7 linked regions of the Homo sapiens genome follow. The protein of the gene in region 4 interacts with the protein of the main gene of each other region in a pairwise test. Each region holds a gene or a part of one and is shown on either strand. Other genes may lie near its edges. The genes, in order: AKAP19, CSTPP1, PLEKHF2, PRKAR1A, SPART, DTX1 and PDE4DIP.

What was found.
Region 1: the proteins of PRKAR1A (region 4) and AKAP19 interact in binary tests that used the Homo sapiens proteins (3 or more experiments, as listed by UniProt).
Region 2: the proteins of PRKAR1A (region 4) and CSTPP1 interact in binary tests that used the Homo sapiens proteins (3 or more experiments, as listed by UniProt).
Region 3: the proteins of PRKAR1A (region 4) and PLEKHF2 interact in binary tests that used the Homo sapiens proteins (3 or more experiments, as listed by UniProt).
Region 5: the proteins of PRKAR1A (region 4) and SPART interact in binary tests that used the Homo sapiens proteins (3 or more experiments, as listed by UniProt).
Region 6: the proteins of PRKAR1A (region 4) and DTX1 interact in binary tests that used the Homo sapiens proteins (3 or more experiments, as listed by UniProt).
Region 7: the proteins of PRKAR1A (region 4) and PDE4DIP interact in a two-hybrid assay, tested with the Homo sapiens proteins (one study listed by IntAct).

The regions. Positions count from the first base shown.
Region 1 is NC_000002.12:190,187,363-190,190,862, forward strand, and holds part of AKAP19 (small membrane A-kinase anchor protein), read left to right. Parts: intron 1-2,372; exon of another isoform or gene 2,373-3,500.
Region 2 is NC_000011.10:46,985,261-46,988,760, reverse strand, and holds part of CSTPP1 (centriolar satellite-associated tubulin polyglutamylase complex regulator 1), read right to left. Parts: intron 1,554-3,500; coding exon 1,451-1,553; intron 1-1,450. UniProt on the Homo sapiens protein: Regulator of the tubulin polyglutamylase complex (TPGC) that controls cytoskeletal organization, nuclear shape, and cilium disassembly by balancing microtubule and actin assembly.
Region 3 is NC_000008.11:95,136,785-95,140,284, reverse strand, and holds part of PLEKHF2 (pleckstrin homology domain-containing family F member 2), read right to left. Parts: intron 1-3,500. UniProt on the Homo sapiens protein: May play a role in early endosome fusion upstream of RAB5, hence regulating receptor trafficking and fluid-phase transport. Enhances cellular sensitivity to TNF-induced apoptosis.
Region 4 is NC_000017.11:68,515,430-68,518,929, reverse strand, and holds part of PRKAR1A (cAMP-dependent protein kinase type I-alpha regulatory subunit), read right to left. Parts: coding exon 3,354-3,500; intron 1-3,353. UniProt on the Homo sapiens protein: Regulatory subunit of the cAMP-dependent protein kinases involved in cAMP signaling in cells.
Region 5 is NC_000013.11:36,311,895-36,315,394, forward strand, and holds part of SPART (spartin), read right to left. Parts: intron 2,528-3,500; coding exon 2,333-2,527; intron 2,189-2,332; exon of another isoform or gene 2,074-2,188; intron 584-2,073; coding exon 425-583; intron 342-424; coding exon 251-341; intron 1-250. UniProt on the Homo sapiens protein: Lipophagy receptor that plays an important role in lipid droplet (LD) turnover in motor neurons.
Region 6 is NC_000012.12:113,063,230-113,066,729, reverse strand, and holds part of DTX1 (E3 ubiquitin-protein ligase DTX1), read right to left. Parts: intron 1-3,500. UniProt on the Homo sapiens protein: Functions as a ubiquitin ligase protein in vivo, mediating ubiquitination and promoting degradation of MEKK1, suggesting that it may regulate the Notch pathway via some ubiquitin ligase activity.
Region 7 is NC_000001.11:149,029,428-149,033,516, reverse strand, and holds the end of PDE4DIP (myomegalin), read right to left. Parts: intron 3,731-4,089; coding exon 3,592-3,730; intron 3,286-3,591; coding exon 3,239-3,285; intron 2,345-3,238; coding exon of another isoform or gene 2,293-2,344; intron 1,574-2,292; coding exon 1,532-1,573; coding exon of another isoform or gene 1,428-1,531; 3' UTR 501-1,427; downstream 1-500. UniProt on the Homo sapiens protein: Functions as an anchor sequestering components of the cAMP-dependent pathway to Golgi and/or centrosomes.

The sequences.
Region 1 (3,500 bases), on a different chromosome or scaffold from region 4:
GGGGAGTTAGCAGCCTATTCGTTTACACAGCAGATTTTAGAAGTTACTTTTTTTTTTTTTTTTTGCTGGTTTTGTGTTTGGGTCCAACTCATGTCCAAATTATGGCCTTTTTGTGATACCTTCCACTGGCATATTCCCAAGGAATTTACTCCTTTTGATGACACTGCACCCAGAATGGAGGAACACAGCTACAAAATGAACTATAAAGAAGGGCTAGGCAGGCATGGTGGCTCACACCTATCATCCCAGCACTTTGAGAGGCCAAGGCAGAAGGATCACTTGACGCCAGGAGTTCACAACCAGCCTGGGCAATATGGCTGTCTCTACAAACAATATAAAAAATAACGTGGGCATGGTGGCACGTGCCTATAGTCGCAGGTACTCAGGAGGCTGAAGCCAGAGAATAGTTTGAACCCAGGAGTTCGAGGCTGCTGTGAGCCACAACTGGCCACTGTACTCCAGCCCAGGCGATGGACTGAGACCCTGGCTCTAGGAGAAAAAAGGTGGGTAGCTGCAGTAAATCACATTTTTTCTTTGACGGACCCAACAGAAGGCCCAGTTGTTGCTAGATCTCTTCCTGAGGATAGTGTCAGGGCTCATTCTATATTTTTAGAGCTTTGAGCCTTCAAATAACATTGAAACATGTAAAGGGGCTTTCTTTTCCTCATGTATGACTGTCATGTGTATATATGTGTCTGTGCATTGTGATTTGAGGGGTAGGAGACAGAGGGAGAGGGAGTGGTGGGTGGAAGGGCACTGTTAGATTTTAATACTTATAGCCTGAATAAATTATATTCTCTTTCTCCTTTTGATTTTGTTAATTTTGGAAGCACTTACATTCTATGGGCGCAGGTTCTAAACACATAGTAGACACTCAATATAGACTGGTTGGATGGTTAAGGGATGCTCTGATAGTTCTTTTGTGTATCTTGAGAACTAAGGTATAAAAGATTGATTTAAATATTTTTGAGAAACTGTGTTTTTTAAACATTTTATATTTCTGTAATTAGCCAGTTAAAATGACAAGAAGGCCAAAACACTTCCTGGTTGATATGCAGCATTTAATGTATCACACCTTCAACTGATGACCATAGTCACTTCCCAACCTGACAAATGAATAACAGACTAAAAATTAATTCAGGACAGCTGATCACACCTGCTATCTTAAGGCTAATCATAGCTGCCTAACCACTGACTTGCATTAATGGCTAACATTGTTGAAACTTTATTTCCTCCTTATGAATCAACTATCTTATTAGGAGTGATTGAAATTATACGAAGTTTGTTCTTCACTGGTGTGCAGGCTTATACTGTAATTGCCTTTTAAGTATTTAAAGTACTGTATTGTAACTGCCTTTTAAGTATTTAAAAGTATTTAAACAGCTGCTATTATGAACAGTAGATGCTTCACATGAACTTTTTTTTCCCTCTTGGCTCTTACTTTAAGGATGATGCTTTTTTATTCATGATAAATCTTGAGGCTTCTGTGGGATGGAAACTATAGCATGAAAATCTGATTAACAAATATGTGGGGGCAGTTTACTAATCCATTCAATTAGGGCAACTGCACCTTCTCAGCATGCCATGAGCAATTCCATTAGATAGCTAGTTACTGGACCAGATGATTACCTAATTACATGAATATATCAGTGTCATTTTTCCCAACACAGGACTTGAAGGCCAGATTTGAGAACTAGTCCTGGGGTAGTAGTACCCAGAGACCTGTTTGGGAGACTGGGAAGGTCTGGGCCATCACGTTCTTGCTGATAGCCCAGAGATCAGGTCAAGGACAGGGGCAATGAGAAGAAAGAAACAGAGACCCTGGGAAGGAGCTATCTTGGTCTTTACCGGCAAGAATTAACTTCAAAGATGGGACAGAGGTTCTATAAGTTCAAGAAAGGGAGAAAGTTAACACTTAAAAACATAGGCTGGATTGGATAAAGTACCGTTGGAGCACTTTTATTCCAAGAAGAAGCTGGAATTCGGAGTGACAGCTCCATTCTTATTTGCCATGTGAACTCTGGGTCAGCAAGTGGAAGAGCCAGACCTATCTGCCTGTTTCATCTATTAGATGGGAAGAGATGATAAACATAACATAAATTAGTAAGCAGATGTGATAAGTAACTGAAGAACAGTTGTTTTCTATCCTTAATAGATACGGCTAAACCAGCTGAAGGTTAACAACATAAATATTTTAATATCTAGGTATTTTTGATGTCCTATACTCTAGAAATATGTGCAAATTAAAGTGTGGTGGGGATGAAGTATTACTAATCTATTTCCTTGGATAAGGTTATATATCCCTCTCTCTACTCTACCCTCCTTAGCTACAAGTTCAGGAACAACACAATAAAGGACAAAAGACTCTCACATCCAATTTCAAATTGGTTTCTCATTTATTGCCATCATTCTAAATCAAAGCACTCTACCTGTTCCCAAAGGAAGTGACAGATAAAGCCCTTGAACTGGCAACTGGAAGAACTAGAAGTAGGCTTTTGCTCTTCGGTAGGCCCAGAAGATTATGACCACTGAGTTGGGCTGGTTTCAGGCCAATGTAGAAAGGAAGCAGCAGGCCTCACACTGGAGTCCTCCAGCACAGGGAGCTGGTCCGCTCTGGATGCTGCCCATAGGCGGTCTTTTTCAGATAAAATACATCAGTCCCCTGGATTTAGGTGCCCCAGAATGTTCTCAAAAACTGTTCTTATATCTTATTAAAGTAAAAATTACAGTGAAATACAGTAAACAGATGTTAAAGGTACAATCTAACATGTTTTAACATATACCTCATGTAACTAACATACCAATTAAGATATAGAATTTTTTAATAGCCTAGAAAGTTATTTCAGGGCCTCTTCCAAACAGTCCTTACTTCTTCCCACCCAAAGGGAATCACTACTATGATTTCTATTCATAGGGTCACTATTGTCCAATCTTGAAATTCATATAAATATGATCCATCTTTTTTATCTGGCTCAACATGTCTGAGATTCATCCATGTGGTTTGACATACCAATAGTTCATCCTTTTTTAATTGTCAAGTTATATTCCATTTTGAGGATATCCCTAATTTGTTTATCCATTTGATTTGCCTACTGATGGACATTTGGGTTGTTTCCAGCTTTGACTATTGTGAATAAAGAGGCTATGGATATTGGTATACAGATTTTTAAAATACCTGTGTTTCCATTTGTCTTAGATAAATATCTAGAAATGAAATGGCTGGTTCACAGGGTAAGTGTGTGGTTAACTTTTTAAGAAACAGCCAAGGAATTCTTTAAAATGGTTGTACCATTTTACATTCCTTCCAGCAATATATGCGTTGCATGTCCTCACCAACACTAAGCACTGGGGTTTTTTAAATTTTAGCAATCTTAGTGTGGGTAATTATATTGTGGTTTTAAAAAATACCTTTTTAAAATTTTTAACATACAGTAAAGCTGACTTCATTTTGGTGAACAAGTCTATGAATTTTAACGCATGTTTAGATTTGTTACAGCCAC
Region 2 (3,500 bases), on a different chromosome or scaffold from region 4:
CCCATCAAGCATTTTTCCTTTGTGTTACAAACAATCTAAATGTACCCTTTGAGTTATTTTAAAATGAACAATTAAGTTATCATTGACTAGAGTCACCCTGTTGTGCTATCAAATAGCAGGTCTTTTTCATTCTTTTTTTTCTTTTTTGTAACCATCAACCATCCCCACCTCTTCCCCCAGCCCCCTGCTACCCTTCCCAATCTCTGGTAACCATCCTTCTATTCTCTTTGTCCATGAGTTTAATTGTTTTGATTTTTACATCCCACAAACAAGTGAGAACATCCAATGTTTGTCTTTCTGTGCCTGGCTTATTTCACTTAACATAATGATCTTCAGTTCCATTCATGTTGTTGCAAATGACAGGATCTCATTCTTTCTTAGGGCCAAATAATACTCCATTGTGTATATGTACCACATTTTCTTTACCCATTCATCTGTTGATGGACACTTAGATTGCTTCCAAATCTTAGTACTCTAAACAGTGCTGTAACAAACATAGGAGTACTGATATTTATTCGATACACTAATTTCCTTTCTTTTGGGTATATACCCAGCAGTTGAATTGCTGGATCATATGGCAGCCCTATTCCTAGTTTTTTGAGGAACCTCCAAACTGTTCTCCACAGTGGTTATACTAATTTACATCCCCATCAACAGTGTAGAAGGGTTCCCTTTCTCCACATCCTCGCCAGCATTTGTTATTGCCTGTCTTTAGGATACAAGCCATTGTAACTGGGGTGAGATGTTATCTCATTGTAGTTTTGATTTGCATTTCTCTGATGATCAATGATGTTGAGCACCTTTGCTTATGCCTGTTTGCCATTTGTATGTCTTGTTTTGAGAAGTGTCTATGCACATCTTTTGTCCATTTTTTGATGGGATTATTGGATGTTTTCCTATAGAGATATTTGAGCTCCTTATATATTCTGGTTATTAATCCCTTGTCAGATGGGTAGTTTGCAAATACTTTCTCCCATTCTGTGGGTTGTCTCTTCACTTTGCTGATTAGAAATACACTTAAATCATTAAGTGATTGGCACAGCATCCTGTAGAAAGAAAACTGCAGAGGAACATTAGCCTAGATTCCATGAGAAAAGCCAGCCATGAAAAAAAACAGGCTAGATGAACATCAGCGAAAGGAAATCAAAGTGAATATTTTGAATAAAGGAGAAAGTTAAAAGAGAAACCTACAGAAATAGATCTAATAGATCAAACAAGCAGTTGTTAAGCTACTGTAATCAAAACTATTCATGAGACATCACTGGACAAACTAGCTGCACCAAAGGCATGCTCCAAAACATGTTTGGGCGGCCCACAACCAACCTACCAAAACTAAACATTCACTGCCACTACCTAATCAGCATTGTCCTGCTCTGTTCCTCAAGTATCCTGCCTGCTTCCAAGCGCCTCCTCTGGGTTCACTGTATTAGTACAACATTCATGTACTTACTATTCAGTGAAGAACCTGGCAATTCCATATTGGCTAATATCTTCCCTGTTTTCTAGCAGCTGGCACACTGCATCCTCCATGTAGGTGAGGACATGTCGCTGAGCTGCAATCAAATAGCAAGAGAGAAAGAGAAAATGAGAGAAAGATTTTAAAAAGAATGATCCCAATCCTAGTAGGAGGTCATGTGTAAGGCAATCCAGGTGTTGGCTCTGTCTGATGACACTTCATCAGTGGACTGGAATAGGCAAAGCAAACTTGCTGACCCTAACTGAGCTATAGTCTCAAAGGATAGATTGGGAGATGATGTGAACATGACCAATTGCCATTTGACTGGCTGTTAGTATTAGCATCAACCCTTCATTCTTCATCTCAATCACAAGGGTGGGTTGAAGAGGAGATTTAGCACCATTCAGCAGATACACCTGGAAGTTCTTTTCTTTCTACCTCCTTCTATTCTTTTCCATTTCTGCATCAGAAACTTATCCCAGGGAGTTAGTAATTCCATGCTTGAAGCATGGATGGTATGATTGTAAAGAAAACTCTGGCCAGGCACAGTGGCTCAGGCCTGTAATCCCAGCATTTTGGGAGGCTGAGGCGGGTGGATCACTTGAGGTCAGGAGTTCGAGACCAGCTTGGCAACATGGTGAAAACCTGTCTCTACCAATAATACAAAAATTAGCCAGATGCAGTGGCTACTTCCTGAGTAGCTAGTAATCCCAGCTACTCAGGAAGCTGCGGCAGGGGAATTGCTTGAACCTGGGAGGTGGAGGTTGCAGTGAGCCAAGATCATGCCATTGCACTCCAGCCTGGGCGACAGAGCCAGACTTCATTTCAGAACAGAAAAAAAAGAAAACTCAGTTAATTTAAATTAGAAAAAAAAAAAAAAAGTCACTGGAAAGGTTTAAGGACCATGAAAATTTTCGTACTGGTGTATATATAAGTTATTAACTTTGGTAAATAACAAGACCATGAAATCTATCTGGCTTGGTTTATTAGATGTCATGTTTTCTGCATTTGTTGTGACTTGGAAATGTGTGAGTTAATCATGGGCGTATAATAAAAAGTATGAGTATTAGAGTGAGACAGACCTGAGTTTGAATCATGGCTCTGTCTTGGTAGCTTAATCTTGGATAGTTACTTAGTCTACACCTGTTTTCTTCTTTATCAAGTGTGAAAAGCAATATAATTTAACTATGTTTCTCAAAATATGGTCAATCAATTTCTTGATCTGAATCCCCTGGGATGCCGTTTAAAACGCAGATTTATAGTCTGGCACTGTCCCAGATTTAGTGACCTTACATTTTTTACTACAGCCCAGTAATTTTTAACAAGTACTCCTGATGCTTCTTATGTACTCTTAAGTTTAAGAATCACTGGTTAAGAACCTGGGCTTTGGATTACAGAGAGTTGAGAGCTCCATTCTCAGCTCTGCCACTTCCTAGTTATGTGACCATAAACAAATTATTCTTCAAGCCTATTCTTCATGGTAAAATGGGGATAATAATGGTACTTACATTATAGGGTTATGAGAAATAAATAAGATAATACAGGTAAAACACCACTATGTGTTTGGTACATAGTACGTGATTGATAACATGTTTCCTTAAAAGCCTGTCTCAAAGCATTATTGGGAGTTTACTCAGTAAACAACATAGGCCAGAACTTCTTAGATGTCAGGTACTCAAATACTTCTTCCCTTTCTCTGAATTTTATCCTTAGGTATGACAGAGGTTTCCTGACAAACTTTACATAGAAGCTTCCAATTCAGTGTCCACATTTACCATAAAAAATTCAGAAAAATACTTTCATCTGGAGCAGTGAGAACAAAAAACCCCAAAGTGATGAATATCCTTCCAAAAAGCAATTCTATGAAGTTGCTGCCAAAGTAGACATTTACTTCTTTCACAGTTTCATTCCTCAGGAAAATATGATGGAATTACCTAAAATTTATAAATATTGGTATTTCAAAAAACTATTTCTGAAGTCCTGGTAGTCTAGTGAAGCTCATAAAACAAGTAAGTTTACCTGCCAACCTGAGCCCAAAAGTCTT
Region 3 (3,500 bases), on a different chromosome or scaffold from region 4:
GCATAGCAGATAGGATTTAGGAAATAACTGAACACATGGATGAAAAAGGACTGTAAGATGACTTCAAAGGCTTAAGGGTAAGCCACTGGGCAGATGCTAGCTTTGTTTTAGGAGAGAGAAGAAATCAGTTTGGGACATGTTTATCTTGAAGTCCTCCAGGGCATCCACAAGACAAACACATCTGCGGGACAGAGATGCCAGGATGGGCAGGGAGCTCCAGGACAGAGAGATTTGGTAGTCACCCACCTAGAGATGCTGGCTGATGCTGGAAGAAAAACGAGAGCAGAGGACTAAACTTTGGGGAACCCCTAGTTTAGAAAGCAGGAGGAAAATTTAAGGGAAAAAAGAACGGGACACAAAGGAGCACAAAGCACCTTTTCAACCTGCTCTCATATGTTTCACAACTCTCAGAGACTAAATAACCTGCCAAAAGGTCACAATCAGCAGTGGGACACATGGGAAAAAAAAAAAAAAATCAAGGACTAATGGCAATGTGTAACAATAAAATATCTGAAATTTTTACCCACAAAAATTTAACCTGGAGAAATAAACTGGAGAAAGGGGGTGGAGGGGGTGTGGCACATAAAAAGTTTTCCCTCTGGCATTAACTCTAATAGTGAAAAATAAAACCTAAATTTCTAGCTGAGGAATAGTTAAATGTATCACAAAAAGCCATCATAAAAGAAAAAATTTACTACCTAAACTTTTAAAACTTCATAATTGGGGGAAGAACATTAAAGTAATATGGCAAAGGGTCAACATTTATTGATTGATTGACAGGACAGGGTCTTGCTTTGTCACCCAGGCTGGAGTGCAGTGGCACAATCTCAACTCACTGCAACCTCTACCTCCCAGTCTCAAGCGATCCTCCCACCTCAGCCTCCTGAGTAGTTGGGACTATAGGCATGCCACCCTGCCCAACTAATTTTTGTGTATTTTGTAGAGACGGGGTTTTGCCATGTTGCCCAGGCTGGTCTCAAACTCCTGGACTCGAGCAATCTGACCTGCCCATCTTGGCCTCACAAAGGGCTGGGATTACAGGTGTGAGCCACCGCACCCGGCCAACATTTGTAATATGCAAAGGGCTCCTGTAAATCCACAAGAAAAGAGGAAAATATCCCAACAGAAAAATAAGAAACAAATGTCAATTTTAAAAAAATGAAAATGACCAGTAAATTTAAAAAATGACACTCAGTCCCAATCAAATAAAAATTAAAATGATATTCATATATTACTCACCTAAGATGTGGTAAAAATGGACCCTTATATTCTTGACAATACTGTATATACACTGGAACAACTTTTCTAAATGCCATTTTGGCAATAGAAATGCTTTAGAAAGTTTATACAACAATTCTATTTCCAATAATACATACAAAAATTAAAAGTGTACAAAGTTGTTCACATGAAGTTCACTGTAGCTTTGTCTATAATATAGAAAAGCTGGAAACAACCTAAATATTTAACAATAGGAGACTAAATAAATTATGGCACATCCATTAATTTTTAGGCAGTTTTTTAGAAAACACAATATTTAATGTGAAATATTGTTAAAGCATTTTATTAAATAAAAGTTTCTAAATAGCACATATAGTATAAGCCTACTTGTTATTTAAAAGTGGCTGATATGCACCAAAAAGTCAGTAGTGGTTATCTCTAAGCACTAGACTAATAATATTTTGATACGCCTAATTATCTTATAATGAACACATTCTCTCATAGACAAAGCCTTTTAGTTTGGGAAGAAAATACAAAGAAGAATGTGTAGAAAAATATAAGTATAAAAAGTAAAATACAGTTATATGTACAAGTAATAAAAATGTGAGCAAAGAACACAAAAATCTTTCTTTTTCCCCAACTGTTGTTTAAATGAAACAAGTACAAAGAATTAAAAATAGTTCCACTTCTGAAAAAGGGGCGGGGGGGGGGGGAAGATGAAGAAGTTGGTGCAAAGAAGAAAATAGAAAATTCACATCATAAAATCTTAATCATTTTAGAAGGAAGTAAGGTCATCTGCTCAACATGTTTCGAGACTGGGGTTAGCAACCTGACTGGAGTGAAAAAGCAACAGAGAAAATAAGTCAACTTGGGGATAAGAAAAGGATTAGAAAGTAACTAGTATAAAGCAGGTAGAAAACAAGTATGTAATGATCACCAAAAGCGTGACTTTGGGGGAGAGTGTAGGGCAGGGACAAAGGTAGAAAACTGACCAGTTACACCCAGCAAAGGTCAAGGAGAGGAGGGACTATGTGGTCTAGTGAGTTCATGGTTAGAACATGAACTACAGAGTTCAAGGTTGAAAAGAGGGAAGACAACTAATGGCCTAGGAGGGACTGGAGGTGACAATAAGGACAAAAAGCTGCTTAACCAGTTATGACAGAAAAGAGAAAGAGAAAACAGACCCTTGCATCGCCATCTGGCCACAGGGTTTAAGACCTGAGGTAGAGTGGTTCTGAATGATGACAAGTAACATGGTCACAACATGCAGGCTGCTGTTGTAGAGTAGCAGTGGGGGTCACCGGAGTTAGTGAAGTGTAGTTCCAAATGTGGCCATTCTGGCCAGAAATGAATGTAACCCTTACTTAACCTCTATGCACTTCACTTTCCTCAGCTGCAAATATTTAATACATCCTTTCTAGCCTGACTGATAGGAATCTGGCTGGCAGCTAACCCCTCTGCATTTTACTCAACTACAAAATGAAAAGCATAAGAAAGGAGATGGGAAATTGAGTTAAATCAAAGGTTCTCCACCTGACTGAACACTAAAATCGGGGATGTTTTAACAAAGAGGCAAAATTACCTTTGTTCTGTCCCCAAACCCAGTAATTCTGATTTATTTGTCCTGGGGTGGGATCCAGGCAATATTCTTTTTAAGTAGCTCTTCAGGAGATTTTAATGTGCAGCCAAGGCTGAAAACTGAACTAGGTATTCCTACAGGCTGCTTCCCTTTAAAAATTTTTAAATTCTATGATTCTATATAATTCACTGCCACTCTGTTCATTTGTTAAAATAATAGCTACTATCGTATTCCAGGCCCTTCCACAAACATCGAATCTTGGGTGACCCTCACGCTAACACTGAGGCAAATATTTCTGTGCCCATTTCACAAATGAGTCCAGTGAAGCTTACAGAAGTGAAGCGGCTTGTTCAAGAGTCACAAGCCAGCAAGGAGCTGAGTCAGGACAAGGTTTATTTGTTCCAGTCCATCCTACATGCAACTTGCTTTCTTTCCAGTGCATTCACAGCAACTATTTGAATGCCTTTTATTCTCTTCTCAGGACCTCCCTAAATTGAGCACATTAGTTTGTGGTTTACAGTTTGACAGGGGAGAAAGTTATCTTGGGTGGGGGCAGGAAATAAACCCCGAATTCTATAGGCATTATAGAATTACAAAACACCTTAACCTAGAGAGGTTTTCCAACTTAAAACAGCACTGTGAAAGTGTATCCATGAAGTATTTTTTATTCAGTTAAGTCAACACATACATTGCTTTTAAATAT
Region 4 (3,500 bases):
TGGCCCTGCCCTAGAAATCTGTGGAACTTTGAACTTGAGAGAAATGATTTAGGGTATCCGGTGGAAGAAATTTCTAAGCAGGAAAGCATTCAAGAGGAAGCAGAGCTTGAAAAATTTGCAGCCTGACAAAGCAATAGAAAAGAAAATCCCATTTTCTGGGGAGAAATTCAAGCCTGCCGCAGAAATTCACATAAGTAACAAGGAGCCAAATGTTAATCACCAAGACAATGGGGAAAATGTCTCCAGGGCATGTCACAGACCTTCAGGACAGCCCCTCCCATCATAGGCCCAGAGGCCTAGGAGGGGAAAATGGTTTCCTAGGCCATGCCCTGGGGCTCCTGTACTATGCAGCCTCAGGACATGGTACCCTGCGTTCCAGCTGCTTCAGCTCCAGTCTTGGCTAAAAGGTACAGCTCTGGCCATTACTTCAGAGAGTGCAAGCCCCAAGCCCTGGTGGCTTACAAGTGGTGCTGGGCCTGTGGGTGCACAGAAGTCAAGAACTGAGGTTTGGGAACCTCCCCCTAGATTTCAGAAGATGTACAGAAATGCCTGGATGCCCAGACAGAAGTTTGCTGCAGGGGCGTGGCCCTCCTGGAGAACCTCTGCTAGGGCAGTGCGGAAGGGAAATGTGGGGTCGTTTGGAGCCCCCACACCGAGTCCCCACTGCAGCACTGCCTAATGGAACTACGAGAAGAGGGCCACTATCCTCCAGACTCCAGAATGGTAGATCCACCAACAGATTGCACCATGCACCTGGAAAAGCAACAGACTCTCAATGCCTGCCCATGGAAGCAGCCAGGAGGGGGGCTGTACCCTGCAAAGCCACAGGGGCGGAGCTGCCCAAGGCCACGGGAGCCCACCTCTTGCATCAGTGTGCCCTGAATGTGAGACATGGAGTCAAAGGAGATCCTTTTGCAACTTTAAGATTTAATTACTGCCTCGTTGGATTTCGGATTTGCACGGGGTCTATACTCCCCTTGTTTTGACCAAGTTCTCCCATTTGGAATGGGTGTTATCTACCCAATGACCCCAGGAAGTAACTAACTTGCTTCTGATTTTACAGGCTCATAGGTGGAAGGGACTTGCCTTGCCTCAGATGAGACTTTGGACTTGAACTTTTGAGTTAATGCTGGAATGAGTTAAGACTCTGAGGGACTGTTGGAAAGGCATGACTGTGTTTCAAAATGTGAAAACATGAGATCTGGGAGGGGCCAGAGGTGGAATGATATGGTTTGGCTGTGTCCACACCCAAATCTCATCTTGAATTGCAGTTCCCATAATCCCTATGTGCCCTGAGAGGGACCTGGTGGGAGGTAACTTAATCATGGCAGGGGGGTTACCCTCATGCTGTTATCATGATAGTGAGTGAGTCCTCACGATAGCTGACGGTTTCATAAGGGACTTTTCCCATTTTGCTCTGTACTTCTCCTTGCTGCTGCCATGTGAAGAGGATGGGTTTGCTTCTCCTTCTGCCATGATTGTAAGTTTCCTGAGGCCTCCCCAGCCATGCTGAATTGTGAGTCAATTAAACCTCTTTCCTTTATGAATTACCCAGCCTCGGTATGTCTTTATTAGCAGCATGACAACGGACTAATAGACTAACATACAAATTAACACCTAATACACAGAACTATGACCCACTAACAAGTTGAAAATCTAATTACTTAAAGGTCCAGGTATCTATATTCAACCCTGGAAGGAATGTATACATGTGAACAAAGACCCTTGAATTACAGCAAAAACCATGTTGAACTGTGACTTTAATTATTAAAAGTTAAAGAAGCTGAAACACATTAAATCTAAAAATTCCATCTGCAAAGAAACCATTTTAATAATTATTTATTGCTTTCCACCTTTGTTAGTCTTTAAACAGTACTGTGGCAACTACAAGCTTTGAAACTAGCATCACACATTCAACACTCCCTATAAAAAGATACACACTTAATGTCTCACCAACTTAATCCTCTCATTTGATGGTTTCTATTGATGTCCAAAGAAGAGGGATCACCTTACAGTGACCCATTTCAAAACCGGATCTCCAGGAATGCACTTGACTTCAAAACAAGCTACATCTATGACCTGGCTCTACAATACTTCCATGATTTGGAAATTGCATAAATAAGAGAAAGCCAGAATATCTACTATAATTCCAAGACAGCAAAGCAACATTCACAGTGACTAGTTGTTTTTGTTTTTTTTTTAATTATTCTGATCATGGTACTAAATACAAATTTTAACAATCAGTTTTTAAAGAAAATAGAAAATACCTGATCAATGAGCTACCCAAATACTTTTTAAAGCTTAGTACAGATTCTTTTACTAATAAACTATACTGATTATAAGAAACTATAAAAACCAATGGAAAATAAAGCAAATTATTTCTATTATACAATTAGATAATCATATACCAAAAGAAATGATTCATTTCTTTTGGTATATGAATCATTTCTTTTGGTATATGATTCATTTCAATTAATTCATAATCATTATGAACCACCTCATAACTTCCACATGCACAAGAAAATCAGTAAGTTTCTCTCACTGATTTACAGAAGCGAATCACATAAACTATTCAAAATATTTGGTAACCCAGACTTTTTCATTCATCGTTTCTTGAGGGAGATGAATTGAAGCATTCATTTGCTTCAATTATCCCTGATGTAAAATTATCACTTTGCTTAGAAAAACATATGCCATATACGTAGGTCACAATGACATACAAGCAAGGAGGAAGAGCAAAAAAGAATAAAAATTGGATTAATTTTTTTCAAGGCGCAACAAGTCCTGACCAATAAAATGGAGTAAAATTTTTGAGGAACATCAATATCAATATCTCTACAGTAATTTATCAGATATACTCTATACTAAAATAGACCGAATCTAATTGAAAATTTCTGATATATCAGTCACAAGCTAGATTCATGTTTCATTACACTAGTTTTAAAAGTGGGATAAGATTTACTACGCTTACTTGCTTTGTTCAAAACGGGAGGAGCATTAACTGCCTTTAAGAACTATAGAATTTCTTATTCATAGAACTGCTATACTAGTTCTGATCAGTTTTATCTGTTATAGTTCTACGCACTAATTTAAAAAGTTACAAAGAATTGTTTGGAAACCCTTTATTAGCCAAGTACAGTTAGCATACAGGTTCATTTTTCTGATAAATTCTACTAATTAAGAATTTTTAAATTACTACAAATGCCTTAACTGTATTTCTTATTTGAAATTGTTTTAGACTTTTTATTTAGTCAGATTCCTTTTCTTCCAAAAAATACAAATTAGTAACATTCCAGTTATTAAATGTAACAACTGTCACAATCACCTCATCATCTCCCCACATTTATTTTTACCTTCTCCAACCTCTCAAAGTATTCCCTGAGGAATGCCATGGGTCTCTCAGGTCGAGCAGTGCACAACTGCACAATAGAATCTTTGAGCAGCGCTTGAATGTTATGCTTCTGGACGTAGAGCTCACATTCTCGAAGGCTGCGTGCCTC
Region 5 (3,500 bases), on a different chromosome or scaffold from region 4:
CTGGCTAATGTGGTGAAACCCCATTTCTACTAAAAAAAAAAAATTAGCCGGGCATGGTGGCGTGTGCCTGCAATCCCAGCTACTCGGGAGGCTGAGGCAGGAGAAATGCCTGAACCTGGGAGGTGGAGGTTGCAGTGACCTAAGATCGCGCCATTGCACTCCAGCTTGGGCAACAAGAGAAACTCCCTCTCAGAAAAACAACAACAACAACAAAACAGAGATTTAGTCATTAAAATAAAATTCAACTTACTTGTATCTGACAGTTTGTACAGTTTCTGCTGAAACATTGTTAACGATGCATTTAGCTGCACATTCCAATCCTTGCCAGACAGTTGAAAATCCTGTAAAAATAATATTTAAAACGATGTAAATCTAGTCCAAAGCAAACGGACCTTCATAGTTAAAATTCTGGGCCCTTTGTTACCTTGAACACTACTTGCTGCTACAACCATAGCACCATCCAGAGGAGATTTCCCATCTTTGTCTTTTTTAAGAGATTCTGGAACAAGTTTGCTTCCATGCTTCTTGACATGTGGAGCTAGTTCTTTTCCAACGCAATTTGCTACAGTGCAAACTCCATCAACTAATATGACCATAAAAAAAGAAAACTTAGGAAAAATATATTATTCCCTTGATTTTTACCACTCATCTTGCAACATTCTTAAATGAACATCTAAATTGTTTTACTATATAATGTTACAATTTCTTCTTAAGGATATGAAGCTTAGAGAGGAGGTCTCACTATGTTGCCCAGGCTGGCCTTGACTTGTACTCCTGGGCTCAAGTGATCCTCCTGCCTCTGCCTCCTGAGTAGCTGGGACTACAGGCATGAAGCATAGACTGGTTATTTTTTAAATGAAAGCTTTTGTTTGCTTTAAAGCTGTGCTTGCAGAGCCTACTGATGTTTATAACCTTGCCTCTCAGATATACATGCTCTTGCACTTCTGCTTGAGAAAACCAGCCACCTTTTCTATCTGACTGTTGCAATGCAAGATTGGTTGGTACTTTTAGCTTATTCCAGCTTAGCGTATTCATATTTTTCTACTGATAAATATCTCAGTTATCTCGGTGAATAAAAGTAAACAATCTAAAATCTGATTCAAAAAATACTAAATACCAAAAAAGATAATTTTACTAAATTTAATGGTAATCCATTAAGGTCCTATCTACCCACCTCAAAACACCAAATTTCAGTGCTGTGATTCTCTAAGAGCAAGGATTTAGAAGTACATTGCTTGGGAAGGTTGGCACCAGAATCACTAAGTCAGTTTTTCTCAAACAACAGATCCCTCCCTCTTGACCCTCAACTGCTAAGCAGTAAACTGCTCTCCTTGAAAGAATGTGTCATATCCCTTAGAAGGACTCAAGGATTCACATCCAGTCATGCTGCATAATGATGGTTTGGTCATTTCAGACATTTCATGGTCCCATAAGATTATAATGGAGCTGATTAAGTCCCACTGCCTAGTAACACCACAGCCGCCATAACATCATAGTGCAATTACTTTGTTTTTAAAATAAATTTAGTGTGGCCCAAGTGTACAGTGTTAAAAAGTCTACAATAGTGTATAGTAATGTCCTAGGCCTTCACATTCACTCACCACTCACTCAGTGACTCACTCAGAGCAACTTCCAGTCCTGCAAGTGACACTTCTGGTAAGTGCTCTCTACAGTTTTTATGCCATTTTTTATCTTTTATATACTGCATTCTTGCTGCACCTTTTCTATGTTTAGATGTGTTTAAATGCACAAATACTTACCATTGTGTTACAATTTCCTATAGTATTCAGTACAGTCACATGGTGTATAGGTTTGTACTTAGGAGCAATAGGCTATATCATATAGCCTAGGTGTGGAGTGGCAACGTTTAGGTTTGTGTGAGTACATGCTATGATGTTCACACAATGATGAAATCACCTAATGACACATTTCTTAGAACTTACCTCCTGCGTTAAACAATACATGACTTTACATTCAGAACTCTTTTTCAAAGATACACACATTCTCCTCTCCAACACATCAGAACAACCCTTTAACCAGTTTCTCAAACTTTAATGTGCAAATAAGAATCACCTAGGGATCTTGTGAAAATGCAGATTCTGAATCAGTAGGTGTGTCTGTCCCTAAAATTCTGCATTTCTAAGGATTCCAGATAGGACGATGTGATGTTGCTGGTCCGCAGGTCTCACTATGAATAACAAAGAGAAACTGCTTTGTCCTAATTCTTTATTCTTGAGATTAAACCATCTAAATGAACATGCAGATTAACCCTGGATTAAGACATTATTTTAAATATAACTTTAAAAAGTAAAGTTATCTAGAATTACTTTACCCAGGAACTGACTGACTTTTGCTGCTCCTCCTGTAGCTTGCTTCGCTATATAAAGTCCCTTGGTGACAGCTGGACTAACTTCCACGGGTTTTTCTTCTGGTTGAATCCGCTCTCGGAGTTTAGAAGCACCTTTCTGGATTGCCTTACCAGTAATCTCAGCACCTTTGACTAAACCCCAACTCACCCAGGAAGCACCTTTTTAAAAGAAAATTTAAAATTGCACAATATTAGGGCTAATTATGCTTTTGAACACTTTAATAAATAACATCAACCAGAAAAAAATAAAAGGAGTTTGATATTCAGATGCTAAATGTGCCATGTCATAAACTTTCAAGCTAACTTTATACCTGCAGTTTTCTTCCTGAATACTTAGTGACACAGTTCTGCGTTACTCTATGCTGCCACTACCTAGTACCTAGAAGGCCTGAGATTTAGTGGCAGCTGATAATTTCTGAAGATGACCACAAACAGTATCTCTATATGTTACTTACCACAGTATATTACTGTTAGGTATTAATTTTTAGTTTTGGTGCCATTAAGATAGAATTTGGCCAAAGAACCCAGATATTCTTGTTCTTTTTGCCTTAGGCCAGGCATCTCTTTTCCCCATGAAATCTTGAGGGAGAAAGACAGAAACATCACAAAATGGAAACCAAAGAAACTGCCTCTCAAACACCAAGGCAGAACTCTTACTTTCTTTAGGCTAAAAGCTTTAGTCAGGGGGTCCTGTTCCTTCCTGAATCCTAAACCCAAACTCTTGGATCTCAGCACCGTTTAGCTTGCTACACATACCTGAATGACAAAAACATGAGAACACTCAAATGCATGAGTAGAGAAAATCTAAAAGAAGAAGAGTGAGGCCCAGATAATTTGGCCATTTCTCATGACAGTGGGCCCTAGCCCTTTGCTTTGCTTTGCTTATGTTCTCGCAGCTTGAATGACAGAAGTGCTCACCAGAGGAACAGAGGGATGGAAGGGCCTTCTCTAGTGAGGACAAAAGGTCCTCAGCCAGTGGAAATGTGGGGAAAGGAGTGGGAGAGGGATGGGAAAAGAAAAAACATGTAAGAACAGTGTCCCCTAAGATGGAAGAAGTATTACCCTACTCTGCAGAGACTTTCAATTTAAAATATTTCTTTTTTGGCTAACACTTAACAATGAGCTTTCAAAG
Region 6 (3,500 bases), on a different chromosome or scaffold from region 4:
CCCGGACAGTGCCTGGCACACAGTAGGTGCTCATGAAACTCCTGATGAATGAATGAATAGTGACCACAATCACACAAGTTCAGTACTATCATCAGGTCCATATTACAGGTGAGGAAACAGAGGCTCAGAGGCTCAGGGAGGGAGTGTGGTTTACTTAAGGTCACAAATCTCCCCACCCACTACGATTCTTTTTTTTTTTTTTGAGACGGAGTCTCACTCTGTTACTCAGGCTGGAGTGCAATGGCTCAATCTCAGCTCACTGCTACCTCCACCTCCCGGGTTCAAGTGATTCTCCTGCCTTGGCCTCCCGAGTAGCTGGGATTACAGGCGCCCACCACCATGCCCACTAATTTTTGTATTTTTAGTAGAGAGGGGGTTTTACCATGTTGGCCAGGCTGGTCTCGAACTCCTGACCTCAGGTGATCCACTCACCTTAGCCTCCCAAAGTGCTGGGATTATAGATGTGAGCCACCACACCCGGCCTACACACCCCATGATTCTTAGTAAGCAGCTGGGATGGGAACCCAGAGCCTGGCCCTCACCAACAGCATTCCCCGAGGTAGCTGTTTCCAGGTTCCAGGCCCCATGTCCTCAGTTGATGTCAGCCAGAGGCAGCTAGGGGCTGCTGGGGGTGTCTGTGTCAACCCAGAGGCTGGGTGGGCTCATGGGGGTGACTATCTAAGGGACTGGAGCTGTCCTGGGGACTGGCTACCACCGGTTGTGATTCCAGAGCCAGGTGGAAGGATGGAGGCCCAGGGAGAGACAGAGGTGGCGGGCGGAGGCCTGGGAGCACCCCAGGCACCCCCATGCACCAAGAACATCACACTGGAGAGAGAGTTAGGGACCTCAACCCCATTGCCTACTGCCTGAATGGGCACTTGGAGCCACTGTGACCAGTCCTGCCCCAACCCCTTGGCCTCCCCGTGGCCTCCCCGTCCTGGCCCCTCCTCGTCACCCTCTCATCACACCCTCCATCATCTCCCCTCCCAACCCCTCACGCTTCACTCCTTACCACCTTCTTCACCATCCCCTCCACAGCCCCGCTACCTGTCACTTCCGCATCACCTCCCCTACTCCAGCCCCCACGCTTCCCATCACAGCTTCCATCTCCTCCTTCCTCTCCAGGTCAGACTCCGCAGCTCCTTTGGAAGAATGAGGCGGGGGATGGGAGGAAGCTGGAGAGGAGGAGGGAGGGAAGAAGGAGGAGAAAGGGGTGAGGGGAGGAGAAGGAGAGGGAGAGGGCTGCGAGGGGGTCTGTCCCGGGCATCCCCACCCCCAGCCCGGAAGGCGCGGGCGGGTCGTTGATGGTGCTGTCCAAGGTACTCGGTGGCCCGGGCGAGCCTGGGAAGGGCCGTGCGCACCCAGCTGCAGACCTGGATCTGATCTCAGACCCGTCTCTTCTCAGCGTCGGCAGGCGGCTCCCCACCCTCTGAGCTTCAGCTTTACTATGTGTAAAATGGGGTGACACCCGCTGGCTGGGTGAAGGGAACCCAGACAGACTGTAGGAAGTGCCTGAGGCTGCCCCTGCCCCACCTGCTCCAGCTCCAAGGGCCCGTGATTAATGAGGCTGGTCCTGCAGCGTGGCTGTGAGTCCCCCGGGGCCTGGCTGCTAAAGGGCAGCAGCTGGCAGCCCAGCCTGCCAGGCCCCAGTGGGCCCCACGAGGCCTCCTCTACCCATCCCCTATCTCCCATCACAGCCTCCCTCTGCCACCCAGGCCTGAGACCCTCCTCCAGGACCCTGCTGAAGGACCCCTGCTGTTTCCTCCACCTGTAAGTGTTCCTCCTATCATTCTATTTACCCAAATCACACACTCTCAAAGGACTCCTCCTCCAGGAAGTCCTCCTCTCAGAGGCTCCAGGCATACACCATGCACATCCCATGGCTGAAGGCACCGTGCATCTGCCTAGTGAGGCATTTAAATCTTTTTCTTCCTCGAGCATGAGTGCTTACTACGTGCAAAGTAGTATCCTCCAAGCTTTTATCTACATATCTCATTTATGTATCTCATTATGTCCTCATGACAACCCTCCCAGCTAGGGACTATTCTTATCCCCATTTTACAGAGGAGGAAATAAACTCAGAGACGTTAAGGAATTTGCCCATGGTCACACAGCCAGCAAGGGGCCAAGCTGGGTTTTAGGTCTGTATCTGTTGTCCTTATGAGTCAGAGGGTTCAAAGGCTATTTCCATGATATGCATTTGCCTTCACCTTCACTAGACTCTGAAACTGATCTGAAATGGATAGATTAGACTCTGAAATGGATTTTGCCCTTCTCTCTGAGTCCCCAAGACCCAGCCCAGGACCTGGTACTGAGAAGCCACCAATGACTACCAAATACGAGCGATGAATTTAGTTTCAAAACAGGCTTCTGGAGTTAGCCAAGCAGCCAGAGACCATGGGTCTGCAATAGTAGAAATACAGACAGCGTGACTGGTGGTTGGGGAGCACCCACATATGGATTAGCTGGACCTGCTGCTACCAGAGATGGGCCGCTCCCTGCCCCTACACATAGTCTTTCTTGCCCCTGGCATCAGGCCCAGCCCTAGTCTCCAGTGAGGAGGCTGGAGAGAGGGTCCCAAAGGGTCCTGTAACCAGGAGCTGAGCCCTGGAGGCCTCCAGGGTAGTGCAGGCTGTCCCTGCCTTGGGCTAGACCCTGACAACAAGCCCCAAGAGCGCTCTCAAGGGAGAAGGGGGAAGGGGGAAGGGGTTCTCTCAGCCCTGGCATTAAATGTCACCTTGTTTTCTATCCCTAAGGCCTGTCTGGGGGGCCTGGGCTCTAGCTTAGGACTGGTAGGCTGTGTGACCTTGGGGAAGTCACTCACCCTCTCTGGGCCTCACTGTCCCCAGTTGGTGTCTAATTCTGGAGGTGTTTTCCCCGGTGATGGGAAAAGCTCCTCCCATCTGGGTGGTAACAGCCTAAGGGTCTCCAGCCTAAGTGTCCTCAGATAGTGCTTCCTCTCATGGCAGGGACCAGGGCTGAGTGAAGCCCAAGGTTTCCAGGGAAGGAGGCAGGCTGGAAGATCCCAGAACCAGCCACCACCTGCCACTCCAGCCTGTTGGCCAGCTTGGGGGCACCAGAAAAGGCCAGGCTTGCAGCCTCGGGTATGGCATCTTTGGATGGTCCCCAGCTGGCATCCCTCGGCCTCAGCTATCCCATCAGCAGAAGGGGCAGGAGGCTGCCATGCACCCCTCCAGCAGCACATGGAGAGCGACATGGGAGATACCAGGCAGATAGGTGCCCCTCCCCAGCTCCAGTCATATGAGGCCAGGGAGCGAGCTGGGAGCTTCTGCGGAAGTGGCTGAGTTACACCTCTGTCCAGCTGTGTGAACTGGGTGGGAAATTCAGGGTCTGGGTGAGGCCCTCGGAGGCGGCTGTCCCAGTGGCAGGGGATGTAAATGACCCCCCAGGGAAGATGTGGCTTCTTCTCTGGGAGCAGAAAGCCATTCTCAAACCTTTCCCCGACTGCCAGTGGCAGCCAACCCCCTCACCCCAAGACC
Region 7 (4,089 bases), on a different chromosome or scaffold from region 4:
AATCTTGGGAATCAAAAGCATGTAGCTAAGAACTTTTCCCAAGGAATATTTTAAAATTTTTATATCAATGTTTATGGAATGACATACTTTTTGATTCAAGGTTCTTAAATGTAGTTTTAGTTTTGATTCAATGTTATAGAACACTGTTTTTTAAACTGTGATCTGAAGCCCACATGTAATGGAATCACCTGGGGTGCTTATATTAAAAAAATGCAGATTCTAGGGCTCACACCAACTAAATCTCCTGGGATTGGAGACCAGGAGGTAGCTCCTATAATCTCCACAGCTGCTTCTCAGGCACACCAAGTTTAAGAACCATTCTTTCATATTTTCAGACTGGGGATTCTTACAAAATGACAAAGAAGGAAAACCTTAATCTTTTAAAGTTAGAGTTCAAGCATTAGACTATATGCTTCTTAAACACAGTTTGTCTTTCCCATTTTCTCTTTCCAGTTCTTTATACTGTCAAGGGATTGGTGCAGAAATGGGAAACAAAGCAGTGAAAGAAAAACTATTTATTTCTTTATACACATTTTGCTTTAACAATCACCAAAAAGACTTTCATTTTCTGTCACCCACCCTGTCCACCAGTTATGTTGGCCTTCAATATATGGCGTTAGCAACATATATAAATCTATATCATATATTTATACACACAAACACATTCTACCAGCACTGTGAAGACACAGACTAGGCTTTACTAGGCTTGGGGCCTCTCCCATGCCACTTAAAAATGAGCACAGGTTTGCTCTATGCAAGAATTTCAACAGAGTTGGTCTGGCCATCAGTCTGCAATTTCCCCGAGATAAGATAGGGTGACAAAATGGGACAGCAACTTTGAAGTGAGGTCAGTCCAATTTGGATATCATAGAAGAAAAGAAATAGGATGTGCTAGGTTAAGCCTGAGATGGTATCTGGGAAGTCACCACATTCATGATGTGAACTCAAAGAACACAGGTGCTACAGTGCAGACCAAGGCCCAGCCTGACTCGACCCAACAGGGTCAGGTGTGGATCTGTGAGTAGTGCTCACTGAGCCCCCGCCAGCAGTGTCCGGCAGGGCACCGCTGCTCAGTAGTGTGCTTTTAGAACCTGCCAGAGGAGCTCCAGCATTGGGACCACGTGCCCCTTTCATCGGAATCAGGGTCCTATATTCACTGAGTTTTCCATCTCAGGACAGCTGATGAGGCAAGAAATGTGCTCTTGCTAGTTCCCAAGCTGCTGGGGCTGTTGAGAGGCAGGATCACAAAACCTTCTGTGCAAACTACGCATCTTTTTCTTAGTGCTGGGCCAAGTGGACCTTGGCTAATCGTATTCCATAGCCGTCAGAAAGGCTTTCTGCCTTTCTCCCAGCTCCACCAGGATACATCTCTGACTCCCTCTTCTGGACCCTCCCGTGGACTTGGAGGAATGAGGCCCAGATGCTCCTCAGCAGATAGGTAGCTGCACAAAAGGGGGACAGGCCCACCTTTCCTGCTGTTTTAAGGACTTCTGGTGGCTGCGCTTCTTGCATGGTTCCTGGAAGGCAAGGGTCACAAGGCTGGAGTACATGGCAGAGCCCTTAGGGATTTCACCTGCAGACAAACATAAAACAAACCAAATCAGTGTATATTGCCAGGCCCTACTGATGGCTACCTGAAGCTGGAGTGAGAGCTACGTGGTGACCAAAGCCAGGAGCACGGTGAGAGCCAGTTAAGAGGATGAGCTAAGAGCATGCGCTGCAGTCTGGAGGAGCAACAGGTGCCCGAGGTTAGGGGGAGCCTCCCCACCTCCCTGTGTGCTGAGATCCCTGCTCCAATTCACTGCACACTGGGTGGCTGGATCCTACCACTCCCCCTTCAGGGGCCAGGTGACTCTCCAAATCACTTTGTCTCAGCAGAAAGAGGCCTTTGCCATGTCCACCCAAGAAAGAAGTGCTTAGCATGAAACATGCACATATAGAAACAGCCTGTTTGTAGGAAGAAGAGGACATTTTGCTGGGAAGCCCTCTGTTAAGTTTATGTCCAGTTGCCATAATGAGGGTGTGGAGGGGCCAAGTCCACAGGGACCTCAGAGCTCAACTAAGTCCAGTTCCATCTTTGACAGATGAGGGTGCAGCAGTCTCACAGAGACTAAGGGACAAGCCAAAGCCACACAGCAGTTAGTGATAAGCCAGGGATTAGAACCGAGGCCTCGGGTCCTTTCCAGTGATCTATGGGAGGTGGAGGGGAAAGCTTCCACACTGGAGAAAGCCAGTGGATACTAGAGATTTTTGGGTTACCTTTTAGTGGATACTAGAGACTTTTTGGATTACCTTTTCTGGGACAGGAATAAGGCTTTACAGAGGCAATCCTGTAAGTGCTGCTCTAAAGAGGCTCAGGAAAGAGAAGAATTATCAGAGAAAAACAAAAGGGAATTAGTGAAAAAATAAAAAAAAGAGCAAGTTAAACTGGCCCAAGTCATTTTCACACTATGGAGATCAACATTCTCTCAGGTTATGGATTAGAAACATTTCTAGGAATATGCTGAATTGCTTATGGCAAAGCTTTGATGTCCATGTTAAAAGGTTTAGTTTCTGATTTTTAACCATTTCATATACCTCAAGTTTTTCTTCAAAGCACTTCCTAGGGAATGATTAACACTTAGTGTTTTAAGTAAATGTAGATAATGTCTGGTACATATATAACATTTTTTCCCTGAAGGTTCAGTTGTTATTTATTAACAAATTCGCTTTTAGACCAATGAGACCCAACAGATCTCTTTTGTCATGTTACTTAAAGATATAGCAAAATCAAATTGCTGTTCTTAACCCGGGAATGTGCAGTGAAATCAGTTTATTAGGTTGCAAATTGCTTTTACTTTTTCATGAAGAGTAGAACACATAACTGGCCTCAAGATCCCTCTACTAGAAGCTCATTCAGAGGCAGACTCCCGAATGTCTAATGACTTCAAGAGTCAGCTGAATTGCATTTCTCCAGTCTCTGAACTTGGCCTCAAAGAAGAAAAATTGGAGTAAAAAGGAGAGATGATGACAATGTGAGAGTGAACCAAGATACAGGGGCAGGAGCTGACGGGGTGGGAGGGTGATGGGGACAGAAACTAGCAGGATGCTCACTGAGGACCTGTGATCTTGCAAGTGGACCCCAAGTCTTCTCCTGGAAGGCCAAAGCAGGCCAAGGGTCACCTACAAGATCTGCTAACGGATGGTGATGGGTGGGGGACAGGCTTGGTGCCTCTGACTGGTGCAGTAGTTTCCTTACCTCTAAGTTAGTCCTTGCCTTCTTTAAAACATCATGTGTTCTGGTTACTGAAACAACAAAAGAGCACCACAGAGTAGAAACCACCAGCAGAAATTAACCCTACTTGCTTAGCATGAGAATTCTAAAGCATTTATTTCTTTCTGGCTATTCAGCTTGGAGTCTCCTTCTATCCACCCCCTGTCCTCCCCTCCCTCTGCAGCCACAATTGCTCCTGGTACAGGAGGTTTGGGGACATCAAATCAGTCTCAACTCCCAACATCCCCAAGCCCCCCTGGTCACTGCTCATCTGCAGCACAAGTGGGGCATCGGGAAGACTGCCTGTTTCTTCCCCCATTCCCTCTCAGGGAACCTACGCTGGCTGACGATGAACTGCTCCATGCTCTCCTTCTGCTGGTTGGCGTTCTTCAGATGCTCAGTTGTGCTCTGAAGGAGTCGCTCCTGTTTGGATACTTTGGTTCTCAGTTCCAGAAGTTCCCTTTCTGTTGATTCTCCCTGGATAAGAGGAACAGACTCTTACTGACCAGGCAGAAGGCCTAAAGCACCCTGTGCTTTGTGGCTCTTTCCAATTCAAAGAAGGATTCTACAGTCTTCTCAACTCTCTTGAACTGGATTTCCTCCTTCACAGCCTCGGATACCTCCAGCTGAGGACAGTTCAGGATGAGGCCATTAGGCAGGAATAATGAGACTCTGGAATTCCCCATGCAGACTAGCACAGGCCTACACACCTGTAGCTTAAGAGAACCTCGCCTCAGGCTGGTATCAAACTCCCAACTCTGAAGAGGACCTTGCTTTAGTCCTGATATCAGTTCTGTCACTCTCCCTTCACAGGTAAGATTGAGAGTTCAGAAGTG